Linked DNA regions of Homo sapiens: region 2 is linked to region 1. A link means that fine-mapping ties the variant in region 1 to the expression of a gene that starts in the linked region. Tissue or cell type: whole blood. Region 1 holds a variant in brackets; the other region holds the start of a gene. All regions are shown on one strand. Distances are between the middles of the regions. Region 1 holds the start of LOC124903372. Region 2 holds the start of TCL6 (T cell leukemia/lymphoma 6).

What was found. PIP is the estimated chance that this variant, and not a neighbour inherited with it, causes the effect.
Region 2: TCL6 starts here. The variant in region 1 is fine-mapped to the expression of TCL6 in whole blood (TOPMed, PIP above 0.99).

The regions. Positions count from the first base shown.
Region 1 is chr14:95,658,243-95,669,693 of GRCh38, forward strand. It overlaps LOC124903372, which reads left to right and starts at 6,571. Exons shown (of 2, transcript XM_047432042.1): 1 at 6,571-6,834; 2 at 9,884-11,451. The coding sequence starts at 6,781. The coding sequence ends at 10,255. It overlaps TCL6 (T cell leukemia/lymphoma 6), which reads left to right. Exons shown (of 8, transcript NR_028288.2): 4 at 4,238-4,422; 5 at 11,309-11,375. RefSeq lists enhancers at 5,029-5,108, 7,178-7,825, 8,472-9,118. The variant T/C (reference allele first, on the strand shown) is at 6,376.
Region 2 is chr14:95,647,152-95,656,762 of GRCh38, forward strand. TCL6 (T cell leukemia/lymphoma 6) reads left to right here and starts at 4,946. Exons shown (of 8, transcript NR_028288.2): 1 at 4,946-5,075; 2 at 5,226-5,338; 3 at 7,358-7,475.

The DNA.
Region 1 (11,451 bases):
AGACTGGACATAAGGTGTTGAGGTGTGGTGTGTGGTTTCACCACACAATCATTTGGGGTCTCCTGAGAGAGGTGGGGGGAGGGGTGTGGTCTGCTTGAGCAGGTGAGGGAAATGGATTGGGGTGCTAGCTGGTAACTGTATACTGACTTTCTTTTGTAGAGGCAGGGTCTCATTCTGTTGCCCAAGTTGGAGCGTAGAGTCATGATAACAGCTCAGTGCAGCCTCGAACTCCTAGGCTCAAGCAATCTACCTGCCTCAGCCTCCTAAGTGGCTGGGACCACAGGCATACACCACCATGCCCAGCTAATTTATTTTTTGTAGAGATGGGGTCTCCTATGTTGACCAGGTTGGTCTTGAACTCCTGGGCTCATGTGATCCTCCTGCCTCAGCCTCCCAAAGTGTTGGGATTGCAGGCGTGAGCCACGGTGCCCAGCCAGTATACTGACTTTCAGTCAACCTCATGCTTTCAGTGCCAGTTCTTCTTGGTGCCTGATGATTGCAAACCCAGGATTTATTGGAGAGTCTCTGTTCTTGATGCCCACCCTGCCCCTCCACTTTCCCACACCCCCTTCACCTTTACCATACACTGTCCTCAACTCTTCTGAGGCTGCTCCCAAGTGTTGGGTGCTTTGATCCTGTCTGCCATTGCCTGAGCTCCTGTTCTCTCCATCCCTGTGGGTCAACAGCTTTTATTTAGTTCATTCCCTTACTATCATTTTCATAGAGTTGAGGAGGTAGGGAGGAGATAGAGGCAGGAAGTTATTCTACCACATTTGTCCAGAGTCTGCCCTGTTTGGGGGCATCAGTGGGCAGAGCTGGAAAGCCATGGTGGCTGCTGAGATTTGGAAGTACAAGACCAGGAGGAAGGAAGGAGGATGCTTAGGTATGGGGCTCAGGTGTGGGGTTCAGGTAGCCCGTGCATGGTGAGGAAAGGGAACAAATGAGAAGAGTGTGGTAGATGGTGGTGTGTTCTATCTATTTTGATGGTGGGTCAAAAGAGGGAGGTGAGGAATGGGTTGAGAGGATTTGGCCCCACTTTGAATGCAGGGCGAGGGGAAACCAGCATCTCAGATGTGCCTCAGTTTGTGCAGGGCTAAGTGGGACCCAGAGCAGGAGGGGCAGACTTGGACGGGAGGCCAGTGACTCTGGAGTTTGCAGTGAATATGCAGGGTCCTGGGTGTGATGCTTGGGTTGTTTATCTGGCCTAGGGGAAGCGACCAGAAGGCACGTGCCTCCAGTCCAGCCAGGCTGCAGGTGTTAAAAATCTCTGCAGTCACATTTTCTGGCTTCTCTGAACAGCCCCTGTAGGTGCTCACACATGTACACATGCATGCATATATATTTATATATATATACATTTACATATTTATATATATTTAAATATATTTAAATATTTAAATATATTTTTATATATATTTATATTTTATATATGTGTATGCATACACATGCACACAGATGTACACACACATATGCACATACACATATGCACACACACACCCTACAACTCAGACCTTTCCTTTCAGAGCTACCCCTGACCGAGACTTCCTTGCCATGTTACAAATGAGCATCTCTTTTAGAGTAGTGTAATAGAACGTGGCACTTCTTGATAAAAATAGAATTCTTTGACTTCTGCCCAGGCTGCCTGGTGGGCAGGCTCACAGCCTCGTTCTTTCTCAGCTTTCCACGTTATTAATTTTTAGTGCCAAAAGACAGTTCTGCTGCTCCAGGCCTCCAGCTGAGCTCTGCTAGGTTGGAAGTCCCTTCTCAGCCTGATTCCCATTAGCACAGAGCTTGGAGAAGACCCTTCCTCACTCTGATCCTGCTGTCTGGAGCTGGCAGATGCACTCCTCACCCAGCAGCCAAGACCCATGCTCCTGGTTTAGAAGGGTCCGTCCTGACAGCTATCTCCACTAGGCAGCCCAGGGTTCCTCTGGACACAGGACCCTGCCAATTTATTAGTCACGGTGGCACCGGATAGACACAGCTTCACCCAGTGATCTGCCGGCACTGCTCTCTCTTCCTCCAGTCCTGGGCTTCTTCATGTCCAAACCACGTGGAGAACAAGATAACTAGGATCAGCTCTTTTGGAGATAGAAGTCACCTTCCAGCCTGGGATCAGTGGCATAGTCTCAGCCCAGGTCTGGAGACAGGGAGGCTGCCATGCCTGCCAGCCCCATCCAGCCCCAGCTGGCAGCAGTGTGAAATAGTGCTCGCTAAAATGAGCCTGCTGTTTGCCTAGATGTGTGTTTCCCAATAATTCAGAGACCTAGATAATGGGAAAGGCGAACATCTCGTATCCCCCACTTCCCTCAGCAAAAAGAGAACAGTGCCGCAGCCACAGGCAAGGTGGGTTAGAAAACCTGTCTGCTGGCAGATTATTGTCTGTAACTTGCCTCCTTAGTTCTTCCAACACTCTCTCCTTCCCCCTCCTCCCCTCCCATGGTCCAACCCTGAGGGTTCCAGCAGCAGCTGGGAGGTCTCCGATGTTATCTCAGAGCTCCCAATCTGCTGACATTTGAAAATCTTCTGGCTATAACTTGCTCACTTAGCGGCTGCTGCTCTGCAGCCCTGAGCCCTCCTAAAGGAGACCCTACACAGAAGAGTACAATGTAAACAGCCGTCGCCAGAGTCCCCCCAGCCAGAGATAGCCCTTGGGTACATTTTGCAATATTTTGTTTTGTTTGCTCTCAGACCGGACTTGCCCCCCTTTTTAGCACAGCCCAATTCTACTACGTATACTCCCTCCTTGTTCTTTTTGTTTGGCATTATATCCTAAGCATTTCCCTGCATCATCCAAGCTCTGTGGGATGTCATTTTTAACACCCACACAGCGTCCTCTGGTGTGGTTGTATGACAAGTCACTTAACTATTCCACACCCAAAGCCTCCCCTTTTCCAAACTCTTCCCTGGGACCTCCTGAAGGTAACAGCAAGATCTGAGCAGCGCTGGATGGATCCTGCTCTCAGTCCCCTGTCTGGGAACAACGCTGAGCCTTAACAGGGATGTCAGCTTCCTAGGGCTGCTGTAACAAATCCCACAAACTGAGTGCCTTCAAACATTGTCTGGTAGTTCTGGAGGTCAAAGGTGCAGAACGAGTTTCACTGGGCTGAAACCAAGGTAGGGCTGTGCTCTCTCCTGAGGCTTTAGGGGAGAATCTGCTTCCTGAACTTTTCTAGCTTGGAGAGCTGCATTCCTTGGCCCTTCGTCCCCCTTGCTTCTCTTCCAAGCCAGTAGTGTAGCATCCTCAGATCTCCCTCTGCTTTCGTCTTCACGTTGCCTTTCCTTTTCTGCAGTCAGATGTCCCTCTGTCCCTCTTATAAGGACATTTGTGATGACATTTAGGGCCTATGTGGGCGATCCAGGATCATCTGTAGATCTAGAACTTAAACTTTTTTTTTTTTTTTTTTTTTTTTAGATGTGGTCTCACTCTGTCACCCAGGCTGGAGTGCAGTAGCACCATTTCGGTTCACTGCAACTTCTGCCTCCTGGGTTCAAGCGATTCTCCTGTCTCAGCCTCCCAAGTGGCTGGGATTACAGGTGTGCACCACCATCTCCAGCTAACTTTTTTGTATTTTTAGTAGAGACAGGGTTTTGCCATGTAGGCCAGGCTGGTCTCGAACTGTTGACCTCAGGTGATCTGCCTTGGCCTCCCAAAGCGTTGGGATTACAGGCGTAAGCCACCGCGTCCGGCCACATTATTCTTATTTGCAAAACAAATACTTATCTGGCATCAAACAGATACTTTGCATCCGGCAAAAACAGGTGGAGGTGACTGAAGGCGAATGTGGGAGGTCATGGTGGGTTAATGATCGCCAGCGCTGTCCGGTGAAATCAACCACCTGTGACAAAGGTGGTTTTTCACTTTTACTGAACAAGCATGCTATTCTACAGTAAACTCCTTAACAAATGTAGCTTTTCAAGGTCCTTAGGACTATTACCTTTCAATATTATTGGGAAGTTCTTTGCTCTTCTTAGCAGACTGCGAAACTCAACTTTGTGATGACAAGATACAGAATAAATGCATATTAACTGAAATTCTAGGCTCACACCTATGTGAGCTTTTCTCTCTCTAACAAGATGTCAGGGCCGGTTCAGGGAGTTCATCTCCAGCCACCTGTGCTAATCATCGCCCATCCTTTCCAAGTATCTAATGACACTCCCAACCAAGGTCTCTATAATTTCCAGCCAAAAATGAGTTACAACATATGGAACATCTAATTTTCTGTTTCCATTCTAGTTATTTTATTCTTATGAGCTTGTGGGCTCCATCTACCAACCTCTGGGCAAATGCTCATCTGACTTCCATAGACACACAGCAAGCAGACAACCACACAAAGAGGAAGAGGGAGAATATTTACCAGCCATGGAACATCTGCTCTGTGCTTATATCTCATATGCATTATCTCTAATTATCAAAAGAAGGTATTATTATTATTATTGTTCCGCATTCACAGATGACAAACTGAAGATCAGATTGGTTAAATACTTGTCCAACATTAACTTAGCATTTGGGCATCATAGTTGGAATTAAAACTTGGGTCTGCTCATCTCCAAAAACACCCTAAGCCTTACCACACTCATGGGACACAGCTGCAGCTGCAGGTTCTGAAAGGAAAACTAAAACTTCAGAACCCAGTTCACTATGCCAAAAAGGCAAAAAAAAAAAAAAAAAAAAAAAGCCAAAAGCTGAGTCATGCAAGAAGCTGACTTTCCTTTTGCTCCTAAGTAGATAGCTACAGATAAAAGGTTAAATAGCTCCACAGGTAGCTACTGTATGTTCACCTTATCTTACGTAAACTGCTGATTTATTGAGCATGAGACAAATACGTAATTGACTATCCCCTACCTACTCCGTTTCCTTTGCAACATGTGGATTCAGTCATGTGACCATACACTGCCTTTCTCCTCTCCAGCCTACTTTTCCACTTTAAATATCAAAGCCCTCAAAATCATCTTTGGAGAAAGGCACAGACTAGCGACTGTTTCTGTGATTTCGTGTCTTTTTACTTCCAGACATGTCCTTAACCTTGGCACAACAAATCTCTAAATCGATTGAGACCTGTCTCAGATACTTCTTGGTTTACAAGATGGAGGCTGAAATTAAAGAGAAAGATCCTCACTCAACTCACAGAGGAGCAGAATGGGAAGAGGACTTAGTGAGAATTCCCTGAACACAGGAGAAAACCGAAGCCCAGAGAGTGGATGGCCAAGTCCAAGGTCACACAGCCAAGTGCATCCGAGCAGCGCAGGATCCAGGTTTCCTGCCCCAGTGCTCTTTCTGCAGCCCATGCCACCTGTTTTCATGCTATCTCAGTTCACCTTCCAGCTACACACCTGCAATCAGAAACAGAAAGTCTGAGAGTGTGTGTGGAGCCAAAGAGGGGACAGCAGTGGTGAGGCCAGTTTCATGTCTTGTGATTTATTTTCTCCCTTTCTTTTTGGACTTTAATCTTAAGTGGACAGCAATTTGGAACAGTGTCAGCACCTTGTTGGATTGTGCTGTTTGGGAGAGGTGACACAGAGTATTTTAAAAGAGCAGGTTAAGAACTTTTCACAAGGAATCAATTGAGAGAAAATAAAATAGAAACAGACTGTCCCACATTTGGGCTGAGCACCAAACACATTTTTTTTTTTTTTTTTGAGACTGAGTCTTGCTCTGTCACTCAGGCTGGAATGCAGTGGCGCGATCTCGGCTCACTGCAGCCTTCACCTCCCGGGTTCAAGTGATTCTTCTGCCTCAGCCTCCCAAGTAGCTGGGATTACAGGTGCCCACCACCATGCCAGGCTAATTTTTGTATTTTTAGTAGAGACGAGGTTTCACCATGTTGGCCAGGCTGGTCTTGAACTCCTGACCAAGTGATCCACCTGCTTCGGCCTCCCAAAGTGCTGGGATTACAGGCACGAGCCACCGCACCTGGCCTCAAACAAGCTTTTTAATTGCATTCAGAAGTGCACCAACTAGGCACAGACCTCTGGCATGGAGACAGAATGGGAGGTTCTTGGTGTCTGGCCTGGTCTTGCAGAAATCAGGGAGTTGTGGGGACCAGGCAGCCACTGTGCATCAGATAGGAGTTTCAGCAGCAGGCAACAGAAAGCCTGCCAATGTAGCTGAAATAAGAAGGGCTTATTTTTATCCCTGAACAGAAGCTTCCAGCACTGGTTCATCAGATCAGGGCACTGAGCTGGCATCCCCATTTATACAGTTTTCCTTTCCTTCACCTTTGTAAGATGCCTGGCACAGCTCTGAGCATCAAATATCTGTGCCATGTGGGAGCACACGAGGGGACAAGTGGGGAATAGGGTCTCCTCTGTCCTCTGTCCCCAGGCTGGCTTCTCTCGTGGTAGAAGGACCCCCACAGCACCAGGCCTCATAAC[T/C]ACCCTGCTGGTAAACTGCAGGTGCTGTCACGGCTTCCTGCCTTCGTATATGAAATGTTCCTTGGCAGCTGGACTGCTGTTTGTTTACCGCACGCACAGCTCTGCTGCCTCTTGGTTACACCAGTGAGCTATTGCTCCATGACAAGCCACACCGAAATGTAGCAAGCACTTATTGTTGCCCACATGTGTCAAGTCAGTTGAGTGTTTCTGCCAACCGGGGCCTGGCTTGGCCCACCTTGGCTGAGCTTGCTCTGGTGCTAGGGTCAGCTAGACAGGTCGGCAGGAGACCAGCTGCTCTAGAAGAGCCTGGACAGGATGAATTGGTTCTCCTTCCACGTGCATCTTGCATCCCTCCAGCCAAGGATTTGAACCCAGGTCTCGTCTGACTCCAAATGCACCAAGAGGATGGAGCCCAGAGTGACACAGAGGAAGAGGCCCCTGGATGGATGCATGGGGAAGGTGAGGCCTGGAGGTGATATGCTTGAGATTACCAGGCTCTTCTGAACCTGGGGGACCTTCTCCTATGATAGCCCTGCTCCTCCAGACCCAGCAGGTGATTTCCCCAAAAGCCGCTTACAGTGAACGCACCTGATAGCAATAACTTAAGCATCCCCTGAGAATGACCCTTATGGCAGGTGCAGGTGAATGTGGTTTGGAGTTCTGAGCTAAGGAATCTGGGAGTGGCCAACCTGGAGATTCATTCCTATTCCTTATCTATGAGGAACATCTGAGCTCCTGTCCCGTCCTGTGCAACACGGACAGTACAGGGGATCAAGGCCCTTTGTTTTGGGTTAGGTAAATGTTGCCAGGTGGACACTGTTGGGGGAGGGTGCTAAGTGAAGATGCTATATATGCTGCAAGCTTTTTGTAAGTTGTGTGGCTCTCCTGCCCAGCCCACCACTGCTAGATGCTCTCCCCTGCATGTAAGCCCCAGTAAAACTCCATGTCTCCTTCAGCAGCCCTGGGTCCTTTCTTCAGCCTCTCAAACCTGCTGCCATCCCCATTGGAGTAGATAGGGGTTCAGCATAACAGCAGCCACCAGCTGGGGAAAGGCGTGGCATTTGGAGCTCCCTACATGGTCTTGACTCTAATATGGAGGGAAAGAAAACAGATTCTGCCCTGCTCAGTAAAGCCCCCTACTGGCCTCCCACCCTGGACTGTGGACAAAGCTTTTTTTTTTTTTTGAGACGGAGTCTCACTGTGTCCCCCAGGCTGGAGTGCAGTGGCGTGATCTCAGCTCACTGCAAGCTCCGCCTCCCCGGTTCACGCCATTCTCCTGCCTCAGGCTCCCGAGTAGCTGGGGCTACAGGCGCCTGCCACTACACCCGGCTAATTTTTTTTTTTTTTTTCATTTTTAGTGGAGACGGGGTTTCATCGTGTTAGCCAGGATGGTCTCGATCTCCTACCTCGTGATCTGCCCACCTCGGCCTCCCAAAGTGCTGGGATTACAGGCGTGAGCCACTGCGCCCGGCCAACAAAGCATATTTTTTTCCTCTGAGGTCTTTACCCTATAACTGCAAGTGGTTTCATGACACTGCACATGGGTTCTTATCTGGGGTTGGTAGATTCAACTCAATTCCACAGGTTTACTGGGTGTTGCCTCCCATGCTTGGAGCCAGGAGGATGCAGGGAAATGGGGCTGCCACCATACCCGCTCTTCTTATGATCCCATCACATCATTGCACCCTTTGGGGCCTGGCACCATGCTCTGGCACTTTGCCTCCATCATCTCCTTTAACCTCTGAGCTCTGTCAGGAAGGCATTACTACTATCCCTGGAATACAGACAGGAAAACTGAGTTGGATTGAGGCTCAGAGAGGTTAAGTCACTTACCCAAGGTCACAAAGCTAGAGAGTGGCAGGCCAGCATCCAAGGCCAGCAACACGAGCTCCCTCTGATCCAAATGGTGACTCTATGTTTGATCAGTGCTCTGAGAACTCTCCAAAGATCTTTATCAACTGTCATCTCTTCATTGCCCAGGCCCAGTCAGGGAGCCACTTGGCTGCGGTCCCGCTGAGATTTAGGGGCAGGACCCCTGATGTGAGGTGGAATGCTTGGTCACGCTGTTCAAGCCTCCACCAGTCACTCCTGACTGGTTATGGACACTCAATGTGCCCCGTCCTGTGTGCAATGCAGTGTGGGAAGGGGATCAAGGACCTTGGCTAATCCCAGGCATTTCCCCAGAATGTCCCAGGTGTGGACCCCTTGGGAGGTGCTGGGAAGCAGGCTGGTGTCCCACAGGCCTTGGTTCCATCCCAGCTGTGCTGTGCTAAGCTGAAACTCTTTGGGCAGCTTGTTTCACCTCATGAGACTTCTTTTTCTGAACTGTTAAATGGGATGATTCGACCTCTGCTTGGCTTTTGGTGACGATTAAACGAGATATTAGCTGTAAAGCATTTCATCCCGGGTCTGGTATAGAAGAAGCACTTGATAAATGAAAGCTCTGTTGAGTATGATGATCCGTCACCCCAGGCATCAGTGGGATCTCACAGCAGGAACAATGCCTAACTCCTAACTGATGCCCAGTAAACATCGGGTGGATGCAATGTCCAACAAGACAGATATTCATGTTCAGTTTTACAGAAAAGGAGACAGAGGCCAGAAAAGGAAGAAAGTGCCCAGGTCAGCCGGCTAGTAAGAGGCAGAGTTGAAATTTGAACCGGGTTCTGGCTGGCTGCAGCTCCACTGCTCCACTACTGCACTGTCTGAGAGCCAAAAGGCACCTTGTAGTCAGGCAGGCAGGGAGCTGGCTTCTTGCTGTCCTGCTGGATCCTGCCCTAGTGTGGCCCTCCCTGGAACCAGGGGTGGGGCTGGAGGGCAGGGCACTGAGAGAGAGCTCCTGGGAACTGTACCATCTGCACAAAGGGCACCTGCTGGGCACTCTGCTGAAAGCTGTCTGCAAACACCACTTCCTGCCTGCCTCCCTGGGGGCTCTAAGCTCAGGAGGGGGTGAGGGCCCATGTCTGCACGTGGTGAGGCCCCTGCTGGGTATTGTACCACACCTTCATTGTGCTCAGGGTGGCCAGTGGAGGCCCTTCCCAGACTCGAGCTCTGGTCACAAGCCCAACCCCCTCCTTGCTCCTGTCTGGGCTCACCTGGAATCTCCTGCCTCACTCTGTGGCCAGAGGCACCTTTGGAAGCCCAGGTCACCCCTACTACTCATGCCCCTCATTTGGAAATTTTCATAATCTACCTCTTGTTAATGATTCCATCCCATCTATAATGCTTTTCTATTTTTCTGAATTTTTCCCCGATAGGCTATAACTGCTGCAAAGATAGAGAATTGCAATGATTAATATGCATTTATGTATTTCCAAAAAGTTACCAGAATATCAAACTCATGATTTTGTCTATAGTTTGGTTAGATTCAAGCTATTTTTATATCATAAAACAACTTAAAATTTTTTTATTTTTAATTTTTGTGGGTGCAGAGTGATGTATTTATGGGGTACCCGAGATGTTAGAATGAAGCTATTAAATGTGAGTGTGAACGTTCACCTTTTTGCAGATCACGGGAATTACAAGTGACATCCTGAAGTATGATCACAAATGTTTCAAATTAAGCCTTCCTGCTAAGTTTCCAGAGGTGTGTGGCTCGGACGAAGTGTTTCCAGACCCTGATCTACTGCATGTCCTGCCTGTTGCTGGTTCTTTGCAGCAGTCCATTGACCAATGCTGTCTACAGCTTGAGAGCCTCTGCAGGCCAGGGCTGCTCTGTGCACATCCTACGTTACTATTCAAACTGCACAGCAGCATGAAAAACAGGCCCTTCTTTTCTCTCATTTACACATATGTGAAGAAGACACAGCAAGTGAGAAAACGTGACCGAAAGCCACGCGGACAGGTGGCCGCAGGGCCAAACCCAACTTCCGTGATGTGATCTGGCTACAGTTTGGAGCCCACATATTTCAATAGTTATCCCCAGGCCTGGCACGTCAAAGAGGCTCCAGAAATGTTTGCTGAGTGAGTGATGAATCAGCAATTTCTGATTTTCTCCTAAACTTAGAGAATAAGTGGCTTGTCTGCAGTCACCCAGGGCGTCCCTGACAGAGGTACAAGTAAAGCCCAGATCTCTGCATCTCTGGTTCAAGGCCTTTTGTACTACACACCGCTGTCTCTTTGTCATCATTAAAAGCAAGGCTCAAGGGACATGTTTTCTAGCCTTAGTTCCCCATCTACAAAATGGGCCTCATGGAATGGAATGTCTCCACTTCACTCCAGCATCAACAAGTGGGGAATTCTGATGGATTCAATTCGACTTCTTTCCATGGGCGTGTTCTAAGCAGCCTCTTTGTTCCAGAAGCTGCCCTCAGCCAGAGTTGGATAAGCCAATCCTCACTCCCCAGCCTCCTCTGGATAGGGATGAAGACCCCACTGGGGTTGGAAGTGCAGAGGCAGACAGGTGTATGGAGTCACCTGTAAATTGATTCAAGTGAGCCAGGAAAGCAGCAAAGGAAAGAGAAACCTGAGTGACGACGTGGTGGAGGAACAGGGCTGGAAAGAGGCTGCTGGCTGTCTGGCTTCGCAGCTCTGGCCTCCTAATCAGCCTCGCTCTTGTCTCTGGTGTTCTCTGGCTCTTGTCCATCTGTCTGTGTTTCTTTTTGCCAGCTATTGACTAATCTTTGCTGAAGCTGAGCTAGAATTCTGGTGTTTATAAGCAGGTAACTAGCTGAGCACTAGTTGATAACTTTGGAGTTAGTGGATAACCACAGGGCTGGGCTACTAAGCTTTTTCAGTTGAAAAATAAATAAATAAATAAATAAACACCACACCCAGCTAATTTTTGTATTTTTAGTAGAGACAGGGTTTCACCGTGTTAGCCAGGATGGACTCCATCTCCTGACCTCGTGATCCGCCTACCTCGGCCTCCCAAAGTGCTGGGATTACAGGCGTGAGCCACCACGCCCGGTCACCTTTGTCCTGTTTTCTACAGGTTAGAAGCAAGGCACAAGTCATACCTACATTCAAGGAGAGGGGACCATGCAAAGGATAAACTGCAGGTGAAGAACTTGAGAGCTATTTTAGAAGCTGCCTTCCACACTTTACAATCTACTTTGCAGCTATACTGAGCTCTTA
Region 2 (9,611 bases), 12 kb before region 1:
CTTCTTTTAATTGTCCTGCCCTCACCGTTGAGGAGTTTCCAGTTGGGAGACCTGCCCCAGGGGCCTAGATGAGGATGCTGGAGTGGAGGAGTAGAAGGAGGAGGGGCAGCTGCCTGTAATCCTCAGAACAGCTCTCCTCTGTAGCACACTCTCTGAGCCTCATTTTGAAGTGACTAATCTTCTACTTTTAAGATCAATAGCTCTGAAACGTGTTCAAAGGGAAGTGGAAGGGTGAAATATAGCAGCAGCCTTCAAGCTGGATTTCTGATTCTGTTGGCCAAACCAAGCCCTGAGGCTGTGGCTCATAAATTGTTCTGTGTCTCCCATGCCAGCTACCTGCACAAGAAAGACAGTGATGGCGGGTGGGACAGCAGGGCTGGTAATGGGCTTTGATTGGCAATGGTGTCAGGGATGTCTGCCCCATGTCACTGAGGATGTTGATACCTGATGGATAAGAATCAGGCTGCCTGCCCCAGACAGGCCCACATGGGGACAGCAGGGTCTTAGTGGGGCTCCTCAGAAGCCAGCAGTCTGAGATACTGAGACATTGTAAGCCATTCTCAAAATTTCCACACTGAGGACTTCTCTTACTCATTGTTTTCTTCTTCCCTGGATTCCTGATTTGAAAATTTGGTTGCCAAACTCTGTATATAAAGTGATGTAATAGCTAAGTAACTATATCCATCAGAATTCCTTCCAGATAGAGCCCATATTCCTAGTTGCTAGAATATACAAAGAATGCTCAAAGCTCAACAGTAAAAAACCAATCTACTTAGAAAATGAGGAAAAAATGTGAACAGACATTTCACCAAAGAGGATATAGAGATGGTAAATAACCATATGAAAACATGTCCAACCTCATTAGCCATTAAATGAGTGCAAATTAAAATCACGAGATACCCCTATACACCTATCAGAATGGCTAGAATACAAAATAATGAAGACACCAAATGCTGGCAAGAATGTGGAAAAACTAGATCTCTCCCACGTTGCTGGTGGGAGTATAAAATGGTACAGCCACTTTGGAAAACAGCTTGGCAGTTTCTTGTAAAAGTAAACATGCAACTACCATAAACCCAGAAATAAAAACTGATGTTCACACAAAACCTGTACCCAAATGTTCCTAGCAACTGTATTCAAAATCGAGACTGGAAGCCATTCAAATTTCCTTGCACAGGTGAATGGTTAAACTGTTGTATGTGCATACCATGGAATACTATTCATTGATAATGAGGAGTGAACTCTTAACAGATACAACAATTTGGATGAATTTCCAGATAATTATGCTGAGTGGATAATGTCAATTCGAAAATGTTATATACTGTATGATTGCATTTTGATGGCAATCTTGAAAGAACAGAAGTATAGAAATGGTGACTAGATTAGTACTTGCCAGGCGAGTGGGGAGGAGGTGGCTCTGGCAATAGAAGGGTGGCTTGAGGGGTCCCTTTGATGGAACTGTTTTGTATCTTGATTGTGGTGGTGATTACATGAATCTGTGCATGTGATATATTGCATATAACTAAATGTGCACGTACACACGCACACACACAAATAAGTGCATGTAAAGGGAAATCTGATACAGTGGATCATATCTAATAAGATGGGTCATATCTGAATACAGTGGATTATCAACCAGGGCTTTCTTGGTTATGATGAAACCAAGGAGAACCATAGGAGAAAAGTGAATGAAGAATATATGGAATCTCTCATATTATTTCTTCCAACTGTATGCAAATCTACCATTATTTCTCAATAAAAAGTTAAAAAAAGAGACAGAATTTTGCCTTGGAGTTAATCTAATTAATGTGTTGTTTTGACCCATTTACCTTCTGGGGTAGATAAATCCAAATTGCTGTGACTGGTCCCAGGAGGACCCATAAGAGTTCAATGGTCTGTCCTAGGAGAGTGGTCTCTGGAAAGTGGCCCAGGATCAATAAACTGCTGCTGTCTACCTTTGAGGGTGCTACCTCCAAACACAGTCACATTGGAAGTCAGGGTGTCAACCTAGGAATTGGGGGGAAACACAAACTTTCAGTCCTTAATGGGAATCCAAGTCAGGGGGTCATAAGTTGAGTGTCAGAAGAGAAAGATTAAGGAGGTATTATTAGTGCCGGTGGGCCAAACATGAAGTCTAGACACATTACTTAATCATTACATTCATTCATATAGTAAATATTCACCAGGTACATATATACTGAGTGCTGGGCTAGTTTCTGATGATGCAGAAATGAATGGCTTTATTGTCTTCGTCCTCAAGGCCCTCATGGTCTAGTGTAGAAGACAGACTGTAAATATTTACCATTCAGTACGATGTGTGCTGTTGCAGAGCGTGGCTTGGGCGCTATGGGGAACCAGAGGGCATGGAGCCTGGTTTGGAGGGGCAGGGAAGACTTTCTGAAATATGGGAGACAAGTCGAAGCCTATCTGACCAAGGCACCATGCAGGAGGAGGCGGGACATTCATGGCACAAGGCCAGCATGGCAGCAGTGTGAGGTGTGATGGGTGTGACCCATTCAAGGAACTGCCAGGTGCTCCATCTGAACCAACATGTCTGAGCTGGGGGCCTGGCATGAGGGTCATGCAGTCCTGTGGGTGCCAAAACAAGGTGGTTAATTTTATCCTAAAAACAATTGGCATCTACTGAGGAGTTTTATTTGGGAAGAGGTAAAATTAAATTAGAATGGGCAATGTATCTCTGGAAGCAGAGTGAAGGGGGAGCTGGAGGGGCAAGCCCAGAGGCAGGGCCAACACTGAGCTGCATGGTCCCTGCGATGGACAATCTGAGCCTGAGGTAAACGGGCTGATGTGGGACTGACGGATGCAAGGTGACAGGCTGAGGCTAGGGACCGTCATCACTCCCAGTCACACTGCAAGCTGCAGCAGGGTAGAGCCACATCTGATTTGTCCCCAGTGCCTGACCAGAGTTGGGGCTCAGTGTTTGTTGAGTGAATTCTTACTGCATGGCCAGGGTTTCTGGTCCTGGCAGCTGGGTGGATGGAGGGGTCATATTGAGAATCCTGGAGTGCAGTAGTAGCCAGGTGTGAAGAGTCAAGCAGGTCTGCAGCCTGAGGATCAGCATGGCAGCAGGAGGGTCCTCTGGGAGCTGGTCATGAATTTGATATGGACCATGGGATGGTGCCCACTTTTGTTTGTATCCTGGGGTACAGATCACAGCTCCATGAAGGTTTGAGCTAGGCAGGTGAGCCACGCTGGGAGCAAAGATGGTGGTGGCTAGGTACTTGCTTATCCCTATACCAATCAGCAGGATGTGGGTGGGGCCAGATAAGAGAATAAAAGCAGGCTGCCCGAGCCAGCATTGGCAACCCGCTCGGGTCCCCTTCCACACTGTGGAAGCTTTGTTCTTTTGCTCTTTGCAATAAATCTTGCTACTGCTCACTCTTTGGGTCCACGCTGCTTTTATGAGCTGTAACACTCACCGCGAAGATCTGCAGCTTCACTCCTGAGCCCAGCAAGACCACGAGCCCACCGGGAGGAATGAACAACTCCAGACACGCTACCTTAAGAGCTGTACCACTCACCGCGAAGGTCTGCAGCTTCACTCCTGAGCCAGCGAGACCACGAACCCACCAGAAGGAAGAAACTCCGAACACATCTGAACATCAGAAGGGACAGACTCCAGACACGCCACCTTAAGAGCTGTAACACTCACCGCGAGGGTCCACGGCTTCATTCTTGAAGTCAGTGAGACCAAGAACCCACCAATTCCGGACACAGTGCTGAGAATCATGCCTTGAAATCTAGCAGCTCTGTTAAAAACTGAGCAAGGTGTACTTCGGGGTTGTGTTGAGAAGGTTGGTGTTCAGCTAAATCAGGAGGGAAGGCCAAGGAAAATCAGGCTTGGCACCTGTCAACAGGTGGGACCCAATAGCCAAGCAAATGGTCCTGCAAACTGTACTACCCAACGTTCACAGCAAGGATTCCAACTTCTCACCAGGGCATGGAAAATTTGCCTTCATGTCAACCACCACCTTAGCCCTTGACTACCCAACGGACTCTTCCCAAGTCAACAGCCACTTCCTCCCTGGGGCTTAACAGGCATTCCTTGAAGCCTGCCCCGGGCAGTTAGTCCTTCCCTTTTGTGTGAACTCTCGGCTGTTTTCGTTGTCTGCACACAGAGCAGTGGTCTAGGGAGCGAAGGGTTTTGGAATGGACCTTTTCCTTTCTTAGCTTGCTGTAGGGATTGTGCTTCAGCTAAGTAAAGTGGAAAAACAGAAGTACAAAAGCAACAGCCCCAGATCTAAGGGCACCGTAGCTCTGGAATCTGGATTTTATTCCAGATTCAACCCTCAGCAGGGAGTTGAAGTGGTCAGCCCTGTGCTTTACAAGGCTGATTGGGCAGCACCCATAGTAGAATTGTCAATATAAAGTAATTGAAAGGATCAGAATCCAGGGTTTTCGTTGTTTTTAAGTTTTTAAGTTTTAAAAACAAAGTTGTTTTTGTTCGTTTTTAAGTTTACTTCTCTTTAATCGGTCTCACTTTATTGACCAGGCTGGTTTCGAACTCCTGGGCTTAAGTGATTTCTCCTGTCTCAGCTTCTCAAAGTGCTGGGATTACAGGCGTGAGCCGCTGCACCCAGCCCAGAATCCAGTTTTAAAGAGTTTATTCAAGCCAAAAGCTGGGAATGGCCATCTGAGAAACACAGACTCTAGGAAAATGGGGCCAGGGCCCTGAAGTTAAAAGTTAAAGTCTTGCTTACATAGGCAGAAAGCAAAGACATTTAGTAACCTTGTAGAACATTTTCTTGTATAACTTTTCTTGTTTTAACTTTCTTGTTTAACATTTTCTATGCAAGGCTGGTTTATGAGTTACAACCTATAATTAATTATAGGTTGTTCCCCTGCCTCCACCTTGTTTTCTTTTCTCTACAGCTTGTTTTCATTTCCTTTCCAATTTAAGAATGTGTTTAACATTCTATCCCAGACAATGTGATGGTCATGAAGTCTCTGTCAGAGAGGAAAGAGGGAGTTAATCTATAATGAAGATCAACAGTGAAGAGGAAAGGGGTCTTCCCTGGAACGCTTCAGTCATATACGACATTTTACACAACAATGTAAGTAAGGAAAAAGGCTAATCTATAATCAGAGAAACAAAGGTTGCAGCTGCCTGTTTACATGACTCAGGTCCCATGATCAAATTCCCTTAAGGCTCGAAATATTTTAAAGTTCCAACAGCTTAGATTTTGAATTGCTTATTTTCACAGAATGGACCTGTGTAAGGAGGTATGTGTGGGAGAAGATTCCAGAAGGTCTTGAGACACTCCAGATGAAGGTTGGTGTGGGGCTGTGCTGCTGGAGCACCAGAGAGTGAAAAGAGGCAAGCGATTTATAGTCTCATCAAATATCGACAAGTTTGGGTTTTCCTTTAGAGTTGGGCAGGGCCTGGCTGGACTTCTTTCTCCACCAGTCTCCGGGAGGCTCAAACAAGTTCTGATTTTCAGGTTCTGAAAAAGCTCTCAGGGAAAAAGCAGCTTCCATTCTGTTTTTTTTCCCTTTCTGCATTCTACTTCCCTTTTATTTTTGGCCTGGTAATTTCTGTCTTATCAGCTTTTAGATGTCCTTGAGATTTTTCTTTTCTTTCATTTTTTTTTTTTTGAGACAGGGTGTAAACCAAAAACTCTTTTATTCTTTTTTTTTTTCTTTTGAGACAGGATGTAAACCAAAAATAAAATTCTAAGCCCCGCCCTCCCTGCAACCATCTGAATGGACTTCCTCCTGGGCCAGGGTACTTTTAACCTGAAAGACTGGTTCAGGCCATGATGGAAAGTAGAGGTCAGACAGGACTCATTATACCTCTCTGATGAGAAGCATTTACAATCTATTTTCTCTGAAGCCTGCTACCCGGAGGCTTCATCTGCATGGTAAAACTTTGGTCTCCACAACCTCCTATCACAGCACAGACATTTTCTTTCTATTGAGCCCAGATCTTTAGATAAACTTAACCAATTGTCAACCAGTCAATTTTAAATCTACCTGTAACCTGGGAGCCCCCAACCTCCACCCAACAATTCAAGTTGTCCCACCTTTCTGGACAGAACCAATGTATTTCTTAAATGTATTTGATTGACATCTCATGTCTCCCTAAAATGTATAAAACCAAGCTGCACCCCGACCACCTTGGGCATAGTTCTCAGGATCTCCTGAGGGCTGTGTTACAGGCCATGGTCACTCATATTTGGCTCAGAATAAATCTCTTCAAATATTTTACAGAGCTTGACTGTTTTTATTTGTTAATGATCTCACTCTATCGTCCAGGCTGGAGTGCAGTGGTGCAATCATGGATTACTGCAGCCTCTACCTCCCTGGGCTCACATGATCCTCCCTTCTCAGCCTCCCAAGTAGCTGAGACTACACACATGCGCCACCATGCCTGGTTAATTTTAAAACTTTTTGTATAGATGGAGGTCTTACTGTGTTGCCCAGGCTGGTCTCAAACTTCTGGCCTCAAGTGATCCTACCACCACAGCCTCCCAAATTGGTGGGATTACAGGGATACGATTTTTATTTTATTTTTATAGAGATGGGGGTCACAGTATGATGCCCTGGCTGGTATTGAACTCCTGTGTTCAAGCAATACCCCTGCCTTAGCCTCTCAAAGTTCTGGGATTACAGGTGGGAGCCACCATGCCCAGCCTGGGAGAAGACTTTTAAAACATATTTTGTTTAGGCCAGTCATGGTGTTGAGGTCAGGAGTTCAAGACCAGGCTGGCCAACATGGCGAAACTGTGTCTCTACTAAAAAATATAAAAAACTTAGCCAGGCGTGGTGGCAGGTACCTGTAGTCCCAGCTACTTGGGAGGATGAGGAAGGAGAATTGCTTGAACCCAGGAGGTGGAGGTTGCAGTGAGTCAAGATCATGCCACTGCACTTCAGCCTGGGTGACAGAGTGAGACTCTGTCTCAAAAAAACAAAAGCAAATCATGTTTTGTTGAGTTTGTTTAGCTGTGTATTCACAAGTTGATTGGCATCTCTCAGCCCATCCCAACCCCACCCCGGAATGCTCTTCCCAGGCTTCCTAACAGGTATTCTCCTTTACCTGGATTGCATTTGTAGAAAACACTCTGCTTCAGTGGGAGGCAAGGAACAGAATATTTCTCTGTCTAGGGCATACTCTTCCATGTTATCTGATTCCAATTCTATGGGACCTATTTTACCATTCTGAAAGCTACAGATAACCGATAGAAATGAAAAATAATTCTTGTCTATGGATATGCAAATGCTTATATTTTGAAGAGAGACAACCCTTCCTCACTTCCCCCCAAATCCCCTAGTTTGCTTCCATTTTACACATTCATTTCAATATTTCTCTTCTCTTCCTTCTTTTCTTTTTTTTTAGGTTATCTCCCTCTGTGCCAGGCCAGAGTGCAGTGGTGCAATCACGGCTCACTGTAGTCTCAACCTCCTGGGCTCAAGAGATCCTCCCACTTCAGCCTCCCAAGCAGCTAAGACTACAGGCACGTGTCATCATATCTGGCAAATTAAAAAAAAAATTATAGAGATGGGCTCTCCCTGTGTTTCCCTGGTTGGTCTCAAACTCCTGGGCTCAAGTGATCCTCCCATCTTGGCCTCCCAACTTACTGGGATTACAGGCATTTGCCACTGTGCCCAGCCCATTTCAATATTTCTGATCAATAAATGTGCCTGTCCTTCAGATTCTCCTTTGAATTGGCTGTCACACCTCTTCAGTTTCTTCACTGAGGAGTTAAACATAATCTTGAGCAGCACGTGATATTGTTTAGCTCTGTGTCCCCACCAAATCTCATCTTGAATCGTAATCCCCCTGTGTGTCAAGGGATGGACCTGGTAGGGGATGATTGGATCATGGGGGGTGGTTTTCCCCATGGTGTTCCCATATAGTGAATGAGTTCTCACGAGATCTGATGGTTTAAAAGTGTTTGGCAGTTCCCCCTTCTCTCTCTCTCTCTCTCTCTCTCTCTCTCTCTCTCTCTCTCTGGCCACTTTGTGAAAAAGGTGCTCGCTTTTCCTTCGCTTTCTGCCATGATTGTAAGTTTCCTGAGGTCTCCCCAGCGATGTGGAACTGTGAGTTAATTAAACCTCTTTCCTTTATAAATTACCCAGTTTCAGGTAGTTCTTTATAGCAGTGTGCAAATGGACTGTTACAGCACATATTCATTTTTATATCTATATTGAGTTATCATTTAACCTGTTTTTGAAAATTATCTTTTAACATGCATTTTTCTCTTTCTTATTATCTTCTTTTGCTAAAACCTGTTCTCCAGTAGCTTCCTAAGAAAGGGTGCACAGGAGACCCATTTTTTGAGCCCCTCCTTATCTGACAATGTTTTTGTTTGACCCTAACCTTTGATTAATAATGCGACTGGATGTTGAACTTGTGAAAGGAAAATAAAAACTCAGGACCCCAATTCAGTATGCCAAAAGGAAAAAAAAAAAAGAAGCTGAAAGCTGAGTCATGCAAGAAACTGCCTTTTCTTTTGCTCCTAAGTAGATGGCTACAGATAAAAGATTAAATATCTCCACAGGTAGCTACTCCATGTTCACCTTATCTTATGTAAAGTGCTGATTTACTGAGCAGGAGACAGATATGTAACTGACTATTCCCTAGCTGCTCTTCTCCTCTTGCAATGTGTGGATTACCATACCCTTCCTCTATCCCCTCCAGAGATGAATTTTTCCATGTCTGTTTCCCCCATTTAAATATTGAAGCCCTCACTATCATCTTTGGAGAAAGGGACAGATCATAGACTTGTTTCTGTGATTCTGTGTCCTTTTCTTCCAGGCATGTCCTTAACCTTGGCAAAATAAACTTCTAAATGGATTGAGACCTGTCTCAGATATTTTTTGGTTCACAAACTCTAGGGTGGGAAATATTTCCCCTCAGAACTTTGAAGGCATTGCCCCCTCATCTTCTAGCACTCAACATGGCCATTGAGATTTGATGGCATTTTAAATTCCAACATGTTTATTAATGAGACCAGTTTTTTCTCACTAGAAGTTACACATAAAATACTTAAAATAGTTCCTGGAATTTAATGAACTGAATTAATGTTAGCTATTACTATCATTGAACTATTTTTTTTCTCTGACATTCTTTAATATTTTAATTTTTTTTTCTAAAAGACAGGGTCTCACTCTTTTGCCCTGGCTGGAGTGCAGTGGTGCAATCCTAGCTCACTGCAGCCTCGAATTCCTGGGCCTAAGTGATCCTCCTATCTCAGCCTCCTGAGTATCTGGGGCAACAGGCATGTGCAACTATGGCTGGCTAATTTTTAAATTTTTTGTAGAGATGTGATCTCGCTATATTGCCCAGGCTGGTCTCAAATTCCTGGCCTCAAGCAATCTTTCTAGATTATAGGACTTCTTGGCTTCCACAATTGCATGAGCCAATCCTTTATAATAAATGTATATCCATCTGTATATGTCTTGTGTCTGTCTCTCTACCTATCAATCTATCCATCCATCCATCCATCCATCCATCCATCCATCCATCCATCTATCCATCCATCTATCTATTTTATTGTTTCTGTTTTTCTGGAGAACCCTGACTAATACAGAAGGTGAGCCCAACTTCTCACTGAGGATTCTCAAGCCTCAGCCTCTTGAAGTGCTGA